Linked DNA regions of Homo sapiens: region 2 is linked to region 1. Evidence: fine-mapped expression QTL. Tissue or cell type: whole blood. Region 1 holds a variant in brackets; the other region holds the start of a gene. All regions are shown on one strand. Distances are between the middles of the regions.

Region 1 (8,110 bases):
AGTCACATTTATTGATTCATGTATGTTGAACCAACCTTGCATCCCAGGAATAAATCTTAATTGATAGGATGAATTAGCTTATTGATGTGCTGCTGGATTTGATTTGCTCATTTTTTTTTTTTTTTTGTTAAGGATTTTTGTGTCTAAGTTCATCAAGGGTATTGGCCTGGAGTTTTCTTTGTTTCTTGTGTCTTTGCCAGATTTTGGTATCAGAATGATGCTGGTTTTGTAGAATGAATTAGGGAGGAGTCTCCTCTCCTTGATTTTTTGGAATAGTTTCAGTAAGATTGGTACCAGCTCTTCTTTATACACCTGGTAGAATTTGGCTCTGAGTTTGTCTGCTACAGGGCTTTTTTTGGTTGGTACATTTTTTGTTACTGGCTCTATTTCAGAATTCATTATTGGCCTGTTCAGTGTTTCAGTTTCTTCCTGATTAAATCTTGGGAGACTATGAATTTACCCATTTCCTCTAGATTTTTTAGTTTGTTTAGATAGATGTATTCATAGTTGTCTCTGAGGATCTTTTGTATTTCTATGGGATTGGTTGTAATGTCACCATTGTCGTTGGCATTGTGCTCATTTGAATTGTCTCTCTTTTTTTCTTTTTTAATCTAGCTAGTAGTCTATTGGCGTTATTTGTTTCTCCTTTCAAAGAACCAATTTTTTGTTTTGTTGATCCTTTTTAATGAATTTTGGCATCTCAATGTCAATTAGTTCTCTTCTGATTTTAGTAATTTATTTTCTTCTGCCAGCTTTGGGATTAGTTTGTTCTTGTTTTTCTAGTTCCTCTAAGTGTGATATTAGATTGTTAATTTGAGATTTTTCTAACTTCTCAATATAGGTATGTAGTGCTATAAACTTTCCTCTTAACACTGCTTTTGCTGCATCCCAGAGATTTTGCTATGTTGTGTCTCTCTTTTCATTTATTTCAAAGAATTTTTTTATTTCATTAATTTTGTTGGTTACCCAAAAGTCATTCAGGAGCTTACTTTTCATGTAGTTGTGTGGTTTTGAGAAATCCTCTTGGCGTTGATATATATTTTTATTCCACTGTGGTCTGAGAATATGTCTAGTGTGATTTCAGTTTTTTAAAATTTATTGAGACTTGTTTTATGGCCAAGAATGTGGTTGATCTTAGACTATATTCCATATGCACATGAGAAGAATGTATATTCTGTGGTTGTTGGGTAGTATCTTGTAGATGTCTTTTAGGTCCGGTTGGTCAAGAATTGAATTTAGTCCAGAATTTCTTTGTTAGTTTTCTGCCTTGATGATCTAACACTCTTAGTTAGGGTATTGAGGTTCTCCATTATTATTGGATGTTTAAGTCTTTCCATAGGTGTAGAAGTACCTGTTTTATGAATCTGAGTGCTCCAGTGTTGAGTGCGTATATATTTAGGGCAAATATGTCTTTTTTGTTTAAATGAACGCTTTATCATTATGTAATACCCTTTTTTTGTCTTTTTTTCTGTTGTGAGTTTAAATCCTGTTTTATCTCATACAAGAATAGCCACTCCTGCTCTTTTTCATTTCCTGTTTATTTGATAGACCTTTTTCTATCCCAAAAGTCATTCAGGAGCAATGAGCCTATAGGTGTTGTTACACATGATATGTGTCTCTTGAAGACAGAGAAAGGTTGGGTCTTTTTTTTAAAAGAAAAATCCAATTTGCCACTCTATGCCTTTTAGTGGGGTGTTTAGGCCACTTATATTCAAGGTTAATATTGATATGTGAGTTTTTGTTTGTTTTTTTTTTTTTTAGACGGAGTCTCGCTCTGTTGCCCAGGCTGGAGTGCAGTGGAGCGATCTCGGCTCACTGCAAGCTCTGCCTCCCGGGTTCATGCCATTCTCCTGCCTCAGCCTCCCAAGTTGCTGGGACCACAGGCGCCCGCCACCACGCCTGGCTAATTTTTGTATTATTAGTAGAGACAGGGTTTCACCACGTTAGCCAGGATGGTCTTGATCTCCTGACCTCGTGATCCACCCGCCTCGGCCTCCCAAAGTGCTGGAATTACAGGCATGAGCCACTGCACATGGACGATATGTGAGGTTTTGATCCTGTTGTGATGTTGTTAGCTGGATACTTTGTAGTCTCAATTGTGTAGTTGTTAGCTGGATACTTTGTAGTCTCAATTGTGTAGTTATTTTTTATAGGTTCTGTGGACTATGTACTTATGTGTTTTTGTGGTAGCAAGTATTATTCTTTTATTTCCACATTTAGAACTCCTTTAAGTGTCTCTTATAAAACTGGTCTAGTGGTAATGAATTTTCTTTTTTTTTTTTTAATACTGTTTTTTTTTGGATTTATTTATTTATTTATTTATTTATTACACTTTAAGTTTTAGGGTACATGTGCACATTGTGCAGGTTAGTTACATATGTATACATGTGCCATGCTGGTGCGCTGCACCCACTAACTCGTCATCTAGCATTAGGTATATCTCCCAATGCTATCCCTCCCCCCTCCCCCCACCCCACAACAGTCACCAGAGTGTGATATTCCCCTTCCTGTGTCCAGGTGATCTCATTGTTCAATTCCCACCTATGAGTGAGAATATGTGGTGTTTGGTTTTTTGTTCTTGCGATAGTTTACTGAGAATGATGATTTCCAATTTCATCCATGTCCCTACAAAGGACATGAATTCATCATTTTTTATGGCTGCATAGTATTCCATGGTGTATATGTGCCACATTTTCTTAATCCAGTCTATCATTGTTGGACATTTGGGTTGGTTCCAAGTCTTTGCTATTGTGAATAATGCCGCAATAAACATACGTGTGCATGTGTCTTTATAGCAGCATGATTTATAGTCCTTTGGGTATATACCCAGTAATGGGATGGCTGGGTCAAATGGTATTTCTAGTTCTAGATCCCCGAGGAATCGCCACACTGACTTCCACAATGGTTGAACTAGTTTACAGTCCCACCAACAGTGTAAAAGTGTTCCTATTTCTCCACATCCTCTCCAGCACCTGTTGTTTCCTGACTTTTTAATGATTGCCATTCTAACTGGTGTGAGATGGTATCTCATTGTGGTTTTGATTTGCATTTCTCTGATGGCCAGTGATGATGAGCATTTTTTCATGTGTTTTTTGGCTGCATAAATGTCTTCTTTTGAGAAGTGTCTGTTCATGTCCTTCGCCCACTTTTTGATGGGGTTGTTTGTTTTTTTCTTGTAAATTTGTTTGAGTTCATTGTAGATTCTGGATATTAGCCCTTTGTCAGATGAGTAGGTTGCGAAAATTTTCTCCCATTTTGTAGGTTGCCTGTTCACTCTGATGGTAGTTTCTTTTGCTGCGCAGAAGCACTTTAGTTTAATTAGATCCCATTTGTCAATTTTGGCTTTTGTTGCCGTTGCTTTTGGTATTTTAGACATGAAGTCCTTGCACAAGCCTATGTCCTGAATGGTAATGCCTAGGTTTTCTTCTAGGATTTTTATGGTTTTAGGTCTAACTTGTAAGTCTTTAATCCATCTTGAATTGATTTTTGTATAAGGTGTAAGGAAGGGATCCAGTTTCAGCTTTCTACATATGGCTAGCCAGTTTTCCCAGCACCATTTATTAAATAGGGAATCCTTTCCCCATTGCTTGTTTTTTTCAGGTTTGTCAAAGATCAGATAGTTGTAGATATGCGGCGTTATTTCTGAGGGTTCTGTTCTGTTCCATTGATCTATATCTCTGTTTTGGTACCAGTACCATGCTGTTTTGCTTACTGTAGCCTTGTAGTATAGTTTGAAGTCAGGTAGTGTGATGCCTCCAGCTTTGTTCTTTTGGCTTAGGATTGCCTTGGCGATGCGGGCTCTTTTTTGGTTCCATATGAACTTTAAAGTAGTTTTTTCCAATTCTGTGAAGAAAGTCATTGGTAGCTTGATAGGGATGGCATTGAATCTGTAAATTACCTTGGACAGTATGGCCATTTTCACGATATTGACTTTTCCTACCCATGAGCATGGAATGTTCTTCCATTTGTTTGTATTCTCTTTTATTTCCTTGAGCAGCGGTTTGTAGTTCTCCTTGAAGACGTCCTTCACATCCCTTGTAAGTTGGATTCCTAGGTATTTTATTCTCTTTGAAGCAATTGTGAATGGGATTTCACTCATGATTTGGCTCTCTGTTTGTCTGTTGTTGGTGTATAGGAATGCTTGTGATTTTTGCACATTGATTTTGTATCCTGAGACTTTGCTGAAGTTGCTTATCAGCTTAAGGAGATTTTCGGCTGAGACAATGGGGTTTTCTAGATATACAATCATGTCATC[T/G]GCAAACAGGGACAATTTGACTTCCTCTTTTCCTAATTGAATACCCTTTATTTCCTTCTCCTGCCTAATTGCCCTGGCCAAAACTTCCAACACTATGTTGAATAGGAGTGGTGAGAGAGGGCATCCCTGTCTTGTGCCAGTTTTCAAAGGGAATGCTTCCAGTTTTTGCCCATTCAGTATGATATTGGCTGTGGGTTTGTCATAGATAGCTCTTATTATTTTGAAATACGTCCCATCAATGCCTAATTTATTGAGAGTTTTTAGCATGAGGGGTTGTTGAATTTTGTCAAAGGCTTTTTCTGCATCTATTGAGATAATCATGTGGTTTTTGTCTTTGGTTCTGTTTATATGCTGGATTACATTTATTGATTTGCGTATATTGAACCAGCCTTGCATCCCAGGGATGAAGCCGATTTGATCATGGTGGATAAGCTTTTGGATGTGCTGCTGGATTCGTTTTGCCAGTATTTTATTGAGGATTTTTGCATCAATGTTCATCAAGGATATTGGTCTAAAATTCTCTTTTTTGGTGGTGTCTCTGCCCGGCTTTGGTATCAGAATGATGCTGGCTTCATAAAATGAGTTAGGGAGGAGTCCCTCTTTTTCTATTGATTGGAATAATTTCAGAAGGAATGGTAGCAGCTCATCCTTATACCTCTGGTAGAATTTGGCTGTGAATCCATCTGGTCCTGGATTCTTTTTGGTCGGTAAGCTATTGATTATTGCCACAATTTCAGAGCCTGTTATTGGTCTATTCAGAGATTCAACTTCTTCCTGGTTTAGTCTTGGGAGAGTGTATGTGTCGAGGAATTTATCCATTTCTTCTAGATTTTCTAGTTTATTTGCGTAGAGATATTTGTAGTATTCTCTGATGGTAGTTTGTATTTCTGTGGGATTGGTGGCGATATCCCCTTTATCATTTTTTATTGTGTCTATTTGATTCTTCTCTCTTTTTTTCTTTATTAGTCTTGCTAGCGGTCTATCAATTTTGTTGATCCTTTCAAAAAACCAGCTCCTGGATTCATTAATTTTTTGAAGGGTTTTTTGTGTCTCTGTTTCCTTCAGTTCTGCTCTGATTTTAGTTATTTCTTGCCTTCTGCTAGCTTTTGAATGTGTTTGCTCTTGCTTTTCTAGTTCTTTTAATTGTGATGTTAGGGTGTCAATTTTGGATCTTTCCTGCTTTCTCTTGTGGGCATTTAGTGCTATGTATTTCCCTCTACACGCTGCTTTGAATGTGTCCCAGAGATTCTGGTATGTTGTGTCTTTGTTCTCATTGGTTTCAAAGAACATCTTTATTTCTGCCTTCATTTCATTATGTACCCAGTAGTCATTCAGGAGCAGGTTGTTCAGTTTCCATGTAGTTGAGTGGTTTTGAGTGAGATTCTTAATCCTGAGTTCTAGTTTGATTGCACTGTGGTATGAGAGATAGTTTGTTATAATCTCTGTTCTTTTACATTTGCTGAGGAGAGCTTTACTTCCAAGTATGTGGTCAATTTTGGAATAGGTGTGGTGTGGTGCTGAAAAAAATGTATATTCTGTTGATTTGGGGTGGAGAGTTCTGTAGATGTCTATTAGGTCCGCTTGGTGCAGAGCTGAGTTCAATTCCTGGGTATCCTTGTTGACTTTCTGTCTCATTGATCTGTCTAATGTTGACAGTGGGGTGTTAAAGTCTCCCATTATTAATGTGTGGGAGTCTAAGTCTCTTTGTAGGTCACTCAGGACTTGCTTTATGAATCTGGGTGCTCCTGTATTGGGTGCATATATATTTAGGATAGTTAGCTCTTCTTGTTGAATTGATCCCTTTACCATTATGTAATGGCCTTCTTTGTCTCTTTTGATCTTTGTTGGTTTGAAGTCTGTTTTATCAGAGACTAGGATTGCAACCCCTGCCTTTTTTTGTTTTCCATTTGCTTGGTAGATCTTCCTCCATCCTTTTATTTTGAGCCTATGTGTGTCTCTGCACGTGAGATGGGTTTCCTGAATACAGCACACTGATGGGTCTTGACTCTTTATCCAATTTGCCAGTCTGTGTCTTTCCATTGGAGCATTTAGTCCATTTACATGTAAAGTTAATATTGTTATGTGTGAATTAGATCCTGTCATTATGATGTTAGCTGGTTATTTTGCTCGTTAGTTCATGCAGTTTCTTCCTAGTCTAGATGGTCTTTACATTTTGGCATGATTTTGCAGCGGCTGGTACCGGTAGTTCCTTTCCATGTTTAGTGCTTCCTTCAGGAGCTCTTTTAGGGCAGGCCTGGTGGTGACAAAATCTCTCAGCATTTGCTTGTCTGTAAAGTATTTTATTTCTCCTTCGCTTATGAAGCTTAGTTTGGCTGGATATGAAATTCTGGGTTGACAATTCTTTTCTTTAAGAATGTTGAATATTGGCCCCCACTCTCTCCTGGCTTGTAGGGTTTCTGCTGAGAGATCTGCTGTTAGTCTGATGGGCTTCCCTTTGAGGGTAACCCGACCTTTCTCTCTGGCTGCCCTTAACATTTTTTCCTTCATTTCAACTTTGGTGAATCTGACAATTATGTGTCTTGGAGTTGCTGTTCTCGAGGAGTATCTCTGTGGCGTTCTCCGTATTTCCTGAATCTGAATGTTGGCCTGCCTTGCTAGATTGGGGAAGTTCTCCTGGATAATATCCTGCAGAGTATTTTCCAACTTGGTTCCATTCTCCCCGTCACTTTCAGGTACACCAATCAGACGTAGATTTGGTCTTTTCACATAGTCCCATATTTCTTGGAGGCTTTGCTCATTTCTTTTTATTCTTTTTTCTCTAAACTTCCCTTCTCGCTTCATTTCATTCATTTCATCTTCCATTGTAGGGGTGGGTTGCCCCTACACACCTGTGGGTGTTTCTCGTAAGGTGGGACGAGAGATTTGGAAAAGAAAAAGACACAGAGACAAAGTATAGAGAAAGAAATAAGGGGAACCGGGGAACCAGCGTTCAGCATATGGAGGATCCCGCCAGCCTCTGAGTTCCCTTAGTATTTATTCATCATTTGTGGGTGTTTCTCGAAGAGGGGGATGTGTCAGGGTCACAAGACAATTGTGGGGAGAGGGTCAGCAGACAAACACGTGAACAAAGGTCTTTGCATCATAGACAATGTAAAGGATTAAGTGCTGTGCTTTTAGATATGCATACACATAAACATCTCAATGCTTTACAAAGCAGTATTGCTGCCCGCAGGTCCCACCTCCAGCCCTAAGGCAGTTTTTCCCTATCTCAGTAGATGGAGCATACAATCGGGTTTTATACCGAGACATTCCATTGCCCAGGGACAGGCAGGAGACAGATGCCTTCCTCTTGTCTCAACTGCAAGAGGCATTCCTTCCTCTTTTACTAATCCTCCTCAGCACAGACCCTTTACGGGTGTCGGGCTGGGGGATGGTCAGGTCTTTCCCTTCCCACGAGGCCATATTTCAGACTATCACATGGGGAGAAACCTTGGACAATACCTGGCTTTCCTAGGCAGAGGTCCCTGCGGCCTTCCGCAGTTTTTGTGTCCCTGGGTACTTGAGATTAGGGAGTGGTGATGACTCTTAAGGAGCATGCTGCCTTCAAGCATCTGTTTAACAAAGCACATCTTGCACCGCCCTTAATCCATTTAACTCTGAGTTGACACAGCACACGTTTCAGAGAGCACGGGGTTGGGGGTAAGGTTATAGATTAACAGAATCTCAAGGCAGAAGAATTTTTCTTAGTACATAACAAAATGGAGTCTCCTATGTCTACTTCTTTCTACACAGACACAGTAACAATCTGATCTCTCTTGCTTTTCCCCACATTTCCCCCTTTTCTTTTCGACAAAACCGCCATCGTCATCATGGCCCGTTCTCGATGGTCGCTGT
Region 2 (8,110 bases), 220 kb before region 1:
CAGCGACTTACTGAGCCTTTGGGGTTATATAAAAAAGGACAGGAACTCAGATGAGAACTGAGGGGTGAAGGGTATTACTGAATACATTGGCTTGGACTACAGCAGCGCTCAGGCTTTGGCGTGCTTTTTGCTTTTCCTCCCAAGTCTGGCTTGTGGGAGCTTAGCTCCGCTCTAGAGGTCACTAGGGGGACACAACTTTATCTTGGCGCGTCAGCTTGCTTTTTAATTGCTCCGGAGTACTCAAAGCACTTACTGGAAAGCGTTTAAAATCATGATCCTTAATTCTTAAGAAGACATTACTATGAAAACACCTGGGACTTTTTGTTGTTAAAAATTATAACCTATGTATGACAATTTTATTGCAATGCCTTTTCTTAAAATATTATAGCTCCTGTAAAATTAGAGGGGCTTTAAACCTCTGATTCCCCCCCTCCATAAATTAGCGCATGGGTATAGAGATACACGAGTAAAGAAAGAAGAGAGAATATATTCACCTACAAACAGATTCCTCTCTTTATCATAATATCAAATAATTAGTCTAAGCCCAGATTGACAAGGCGTATGAGCTACACTTTTGGTTCGCTCCTTTTTTATGGAGCCATATGGCACGATGAGTGAAACAGAAGGATTGGTTTTCAGCACTGCTGATGTGGCTATCCATTGGCAGAAATACATTTCATTCCCACCCCAAACCTTGCAGATTGTAAATGGTCCATGAAGAGTGGAAAAAATTTTACAGTTTTACAGTACATGGTAGCCAGAGAAAATCTTACCCTTGAAATTAATAATCTTGGCAGAAGCACAAAAAGATACAATTAGATTGATGAAATGAGCTCATATAAGAGATTTGATGAAAAAGACACCTCCCCTTTATTCTTCCGTCCCCTCAAAACACCAAAAAGTTTTTGTTTTGTAGGTCAGTATGGAATCATTTGTATTTTCTTGAATAAGTTTAATTTGATAGTGAAATAATTGAAGAATAGCAGTTAAGTGTTAACAGTTTCTCTGGAAGGATTAATAATCAAGCTTTCTTACGACATGTGGTCTCAATAAATTTTATGTAGTACTTTAAAAATAAGGTTTTCTCATGCTACATGTTTTTCTTAAAGGAAAAGTTATGTTACTTAGCTCCTATCAACTTGTGTTGAGTTGTTCTTGTTTTTTAAAACAAGTTCATTTAGTATTTCACAGAAAGAAGGACACCTTTAAAAACAAATCCTTGGAGTTTCACTTTAGCGAAGCAGGATGAATTGTGATATTTGATAGATGACAGAAGCAAACCCAGAAAGTTGTAATCTATTGACTTGCCTCAATTTTGCCTTTTAAGAGGAGAGCTCTACAAAAGCATCTGACTGCAGGCTTGCTGAACTGCTCTCAGATGTCTGCTTCTAAGCTACAACCAACTAAACTGGGACTGCCTGGTAGGAAAAATTTCTAGGCTTTATTGGCAGGGGCAGGCTACTGGGGTGAACTTTGCTGGATAAAACACTGTAGATTTAGCAATATTCCATGCTGTGTTGGTTATTCTCTTACAAGAGCTGCTTCTCTGCTTAGCTACACCGCATGCAGGGAGAGATCATTCGTCGGATCTTGTGACAGGCAAGTTGCTCATTGGCTTCTGAAGTCCTAGCAAGAGAGACTATCCATAAGCCTAGAAATTGGCCAAAGAGAAATGCAGTTTCTTAACATTGATAGAAGAATAAGATCTGTTGGCAGGATTTCTCAAGGGACATTAGCATTCATTTGTGACATCTCATCAAAAGGACAGTCTTTCAGAAAGGCCAATGGAATCTTTTACAATCCAATATTGATAATGTTTTTAACGAAAAAATGCTATAGTTCATAATCAATACAAGTCTTATAAATGCAAGCTGGTTACATTGGTTATAATCACGTCACCACCCCCACCCCTGCCTTTTCCAATATTAGTACAACAAAGACTTCTTGCTCAATTACTTAAGTGTAAAACTTATGTTTAGGTTAATTTATTCATTTATTCATTTAGCACATATTTATTGAGCACTGAATATGTACCAGATTCTGTGCAAAACACTAGGGATACGGTAATGAACATGATAGACAATGAAGTAAGAGGAGGCCTGGAAGAAGCAGGTGACAAATAATATGAACCAGAAAATTTCACATAGTGATTAATACCAGGAGAAATAAAACAAAGTGATGTGCGAGCAAATGATTTTGAGGTTACTTTAGATTGTCTGGAAAGGTGGCATTTGTGTCGGGAAACAAGTGATGAAGAGTAATTTGCATGCCAAGAACTGGAACATAACACTTCAGGCCTTAAGGTAGAAATGAGGTGGTAGCTTGGCACATTCACATACAAAAGGAAGAGGTGTAATGTGTAAGGAAGAGACAGTTAGGGAGAAGCCAGGCCTTTTTGGTCATAAAAAGGAATATAGAGTTTAAGTGCAATGAGAAGCCATTGGATATTCACTTGCTATTTGGGGATACATTCCTCTCCTGGAAGATTATTTCAGGGAGAGGAGCATTCCTACATCAACTCCCTAGGCCAACTAAGGTGACCTAATAGACTTCACTTTTCTAAAAGGTCCAGTTATACTCACGTTATTTTCTCTTGCTATTCACCAGAATACCTATGCAATTTCAGGCTGAGATATTGATAGCATCTCTAGGAATCCCTGCTTAGAAAACAATTCTAGAGAGAATGAGGATTAATTTAACATTTAGTACAAGATGATAAGATTAGTCACTTCCCTGGCAAGCCTTTCAATGCAAGTAAGTCTTAGGAAAAACATATTGTAATGGTAGAGGGGGATTCTGAGGGGTCCAGAACATGACTGTGCAGTAGGCAGAATGTGGAAGGCAGCATGAGGGGCTCCTAGATAACAGAAAGGGGTCCACAGAAGGAGAAGAGTGATGTTTGGAAGGGGACATGAGAAAGCCTCTAAAACAACATCAGCCAATTCGTGATTTTGCCAAGTGGAAGCCTGATATGAGCATGTTCCAAGAGAAACATTCTCATTCAAACACAGAAAAAGTTTAAACCAGGGTACTTTTATGCTTTTGACTGATCTTTTTATAATGAAGCATTTGTAACAATAAAAGCACACAGATGTTTACAAAGTCTCTTTGATTTTACTTAATCACTGTCAGGTTGTTCTGATGGATTACAGACCTCACAAATGAAAATAGCATGAACATATTAATGATAACTGCTGTTTGTTGGAGGTAGTTGCTTGATAGCTAGTTAAGGAAATCATGCTCTTGGGTCTCATTTTACTGTAGAGATGTTGGTAAGTGGGATATGGGGTATATTGGATGATTTTCTTTCCCCTAAGCATTTGTGACAAGAAGGTGCTATGATATTCAGGAAAGACACAAATAATAGTAGATTATTTTAAAGGTAATCATGGCCTACTTCCACCTCCAAACTACCTACTTCTTTGCCAAGGATTAACAATGAAAAAATATACTATAGCTCCAGGACTTTGTTCAGTCTCCTCCCCCTCTTTATACTCCAAGTGACTCCTTTGAGGCTAGCAAGGCTAGTAGGACCTCAGGGATTACCTAAGAATGGGGTATGGCCCTTAGTGATACTGGAACACAATGTGTTTATGACATCAGCTTTTTTTTCACAGTAGTGAATCGTAGCATGTTAGAGTTAGAAGGTTCAGTGTTGATGGAGTTATTGAAGAAATGATGGAGTAAGAGGTGAGTGATACTGCTAAATGCAAGAAGTCTATGTCTGTAGGAAAATTGGTCAAGTTTGTTATTCATAAGTACGTATTCTATACAACTCAAGAAATACACACACACACACACATATATATAGTGAAGTCTGAATATAAATTAGGAACTGAGCACTTCCTCTCCGTGTGTGTGTGTGTATATATATAGATATCCTGGGGGATTATTTAAAGAGAGTAGTATTTTTACATCAGCTCCCTAGGCCAAGTAAGGTGACCCAATGGACTTCACTTTTCTAAAAAGTCCAGTTACACTTATGTATCTTCTCTTAATATTCACCAAAATATCGACAATATTTCGGGCTGAGATGTTGATAACATCTCTAGGAATCCTTACCTACTGGTATTCACACCTGTTCATACTCCCCTTCCAAAATGAATCACAGCTGACCATGTGATCAGTACTGTACAGCAGAAAACTACATCATAAAGACATACACTATGGCTTCTGCCTTGTTCTTTTGTATTCTTTGCTTTCTTATGTTGCTCATTTTGGGGAAACCAGATGCCATGTTTTAAAAATACTCAAGGATCCCTTGGATTATTTTTTGAAGCAGAGGTTCATACAGATATTATTAACATTTCAGCCCAAAATATTGTCGGTATTTTGATGAATAGTAAGAGAAGATACATAAGTATAACTGCACTTTTTAGAAAAGTGAAGTCCATTGGGTCACCTTACTTGGCCTAGGGAGCTGATGTAGAAATATTGCTCTCTCTAAATAATTCTCCAGGATATCTATGTGTATATAGGTATATGTATGTATATGTATATACCTATGGAGAGAGAAGAAGAGCTCAGTTCCTAATTTATATTCAGACTTCACTATGTGTGTGTGTGTGTGTGTGTGTGTGTGTGTGTGTGTGTATTTCTTGACTTGCATAGAAGTCTTGAATCTTAGCTCTGTGTGGGAAGAACTGAGGCCTCCTGCTAATAGCAACAACTTGCTAGTTATGTGAGTGATCTATCTTGGGAACAGACCCTGCAACCAAGTCAAGCCTTCAGATGACTGTAGCTTCAGCCAACATCTGACTGAATTTCATGATAGCCCCGACCCAGAGCTATCCAATCAAGCTGCTTCTGGATTCCTGAATCACAGAAACCATAAGATATAATAAATGCTTACTCTTGTCTTAAACCACTAAAATTTGGGGGTAATAGGTTACATAACATTAGATCATGAATATACCTGTGGTTCATTATTTTTGCACCTCTATCATGAAATGTAATATTTGTTACTAGTTCCAACACTGATCTTGAATCTTAGCCCTCTTTCCTATTTAGTGAATTGGGCTGAAACCCTGAAGTTCTCTTTTCTTGTTTCCCTTGAGTTTCTTGTAGCAGCTTGCTTTCTCCTCTGCTTTTTTGAGTACTGATTCCTGGCTCCTCTAGTTCATTTAGTTTAGAAGATACTTTCCAAATTGAAGCACTACCGAACCAAAAATCAGAGTGATAAAGAGAATACAAAAGCCCTAAAATCTCCCAACAGCACAAGATTTCACAGTCCTCCAAACTAAGAAGATAGAAAGTTTCTTAAAATCTACAATCTTTTATTCTCACCATCAAAAATAAGAATGTAAGGTAATGAATATGTTAAATAGCTTGATTTAGCCATTCCACAATGTGTATATATATCAAAACATCAGGTTTCACACCATAAATATATAAATTTTTACTTGCCAATTAAAAAAGAAAAAACCCAAAGAAATGAAACCCTAAAATATTCAAATAAAAACCTTTCCAGCTGTATTTATCTATTCCTCCTTACCAAAGAATCCCTTCCTCCTCCCAGCCCAGTTAGTCCTTTGAGGTATAAATAGGAGACTGAGAAAGAGGATTTAAGAAAGGAAGGTTGCCGTCTCTTCTACTTGAGAGTAGGATATTAATCTATTTTATTCGTTCATGTAGTTCTCTATTCATTCAATAAGTGTTAATCAATCGCTTACTATGTACTGGGCACTATTCTAAGCATGCTTGGGATAAATCAGGGAACAAAATGAATTCTTCATGAGGTTTACACTATACATAGGGAAGACAAACAATGAATAATAAGCATGAATACATTGTTGATATTAAAAATTGAAAAGTGCCATGACAGAAAGAAAAAAAAATGAGCATAGTAAGGGGGATTTGGATTGCTAATCATGGGATGATGGTGGGCCAGCTGCAAGTATTAATAGGGTGGTTAGGGTAGGACCAATTGACGAGGTAATATTGAAGGACATGAAGCAGTGGAAGGGGAGGAGACTTCCAGAAGGAAGGAAAAGCCAGAGCAAAGACCCTACAGTGAAAATATACCTGGTATGTTTGACTAACAGAAAGAAGACCAAGTGGAATTAGTAAGGGGGATAGAAATAGAAAATGAAGTCAGAAAGATGAGGGAAGACTAAATTATATTAAACTTTTTAGAAAGTTTTAAGACTTTGGTTTTTACTCTGGGGAAATGTGGCACCAGTTCAGATTTTGAACAGAGGAAAAATATGATCTGACTTACATTTTAAAATAATTGCTACGGCGACTGTGTTGAGAATATCGAGCCAATATGTAGGGGTAATGAGAAACTAGAAGACTAGTAAGGAATCTTTTGCAATAACTCTTTAAAAATTTTCTTCTTCTGGTGGCTGAATAATACTCCATTGTGTACACACACAACACACACACACACACACACATACCCCTCACATTTTGTTTATCCATTCATCTGTGGATAGACACGTAGGTTGATTCCATATCTTTTTCTCTGGAAAAATATATTTTCAGTTCCTTTGCCTATTTTTAAGTTGGGTTATTTGTTTTTTTTTGTTTTTTGTTTTGTTTTGTTTTGTTTTTGCTATTGACTTACAACAACATGGATAAACCTGGAGGACTTTATACTAAGTGAAATCAACCAGGCACAAAAAGAAAAATACTGTATGATCTCACTTATATGTGGAATCCAAAATTATTGAACTCATAGAAGCAGTGAGTAGAATGGTGGTTGCCAAAGGCTGGGGGAGTGGGAGAAGTGAGGAGATACTAGTCAAACAGTACAAACTTACAGTTATAAGACAAGTTCTGGGGACATAATATACAGCATAGATAGTGATGGATATTGTATTAGTTTGTTTTCATGCTGCTAATGAAGACATACCCAAGATTGGGTAACTTATAAAGGAAAGAGGTTTAATTGACTCACAGTTCCACATGGCTGGTGAGGCCTCACCATCATGGCAGAAGGTGAATGAGGAACAAAGTCACATCTTACATGGCAGCATGCAAGATAGCATGTACAGGGGAACTCCCCTTTATAAAACCATCAGATCTCATGAGACTTACTATCATGAAAACAGCATGGCAAAGACCCACCCCCATGATTCAATTACCTCCCACTGGGTCCCTCCCATGACATGTGGGAATTATGGGAGTTACAATTCAAGATGAGATTTGGGTGGGGACACAGCCCAAACTATGTCAGATGTGTTATTAAATTTGGTTGTAATAATTATTTATTATACAACGTGTACATATACCAAATCATCATGTTGTACACTTTGAATACATACAGTCTTTATTTGTCAATTAATATTTTAAAATAAAAAGTTGCTTATAAAAAATAATTCAGTTGAGAGATGATAGTGGCATCTATCAGGGTAGAAGCAGTGGTGAACATGAGAAATGGAAGGATACTGAATATATTTTTAAGGTAGAACTTATATAATTTTAAAAACTAACAGGATGTTTCATGTGAGAGAAAGAAAGGAGTGATGGATTAATGCACAGTTTTTGACCTAAACAACTAAGAGAAGGTGGACTTGGCATCAACTACTATTTGAAGATTGTAGAAGGGGCAAGTTTATGGGGAAGGATCAGAAGTTTAGTTTTGGACACATTTGGGTTTGAAATATTTATTTGATATACAAGTGAAGATGACAAGTAGGAAGCTGGATATGTAAGTCTGGAGTCTTGGAGAGAGGCTTGGGCTGATCATATGAATTTGGAATTCATCAGAACATTGGTGGTATTTAAGATCACAGACTGGAAGACTCACTGGGAATTGAGTATAGATTGAGAGAAATGATCTGAGCCCAGGGCTGCTCCATTATTAAGAGATAAGTGAGAAGGGGAGGAGTCAGTAAAGGAGATTGAGAAAGAGCAACTGGTGACTAAGAAGTGGGTGTGGGGTCTTGGAACCAAGGAAGAAAGTGTATCAAGGAGGAAAATGATAATCAACAGTGTCAAACGCTGCCCATAGGTCAGGTAAGATCAGGGTTGAGAAATGGCCATTGTATTTATTAATATGAAAGTCATTGAAGACCTTAATTAATTAATATGAAAGTCAAAGACAGCCCAGGTGAAGTGGTGGCAATGATGCTTTGAGTGAAGTGGGTTAAGAGAGAATGAAGAG

Evidence for each region. PIP is the estimated chance that this variant, and not a neighbour inherited with it, causes the effect.
Region 2: SLC44A5 starts here. The variant in region 1 is fine-mapped to the expression of SLC44A5 in whole blood (TOPMed, PIP 0.97).

The regions. Positions count from the first base shown.
Region 1 is chr1:75,382,427-75,390,536 of GRCh38, reverse strand. All of the region lies in intron 3 of SLC44A5 (solute carrier family 44 member 5), which reads left to right. Among named protein-coding and RNA genes, the nearest start is that of SLC44A5, 220 kb to the left of the region's middle. The variant T/G (reference allele first, on the strand shown) is at 4,256.
Region 2 is chr1:75,606,620-75,614,729 of GRCh38, reverse strand. SLC44A5 (solute carrier family 44 member 5) reads left to right here and starts at 3,616. Exons shown (of 24, transcript NM_001130058.2): 1 at 3,616-3,690.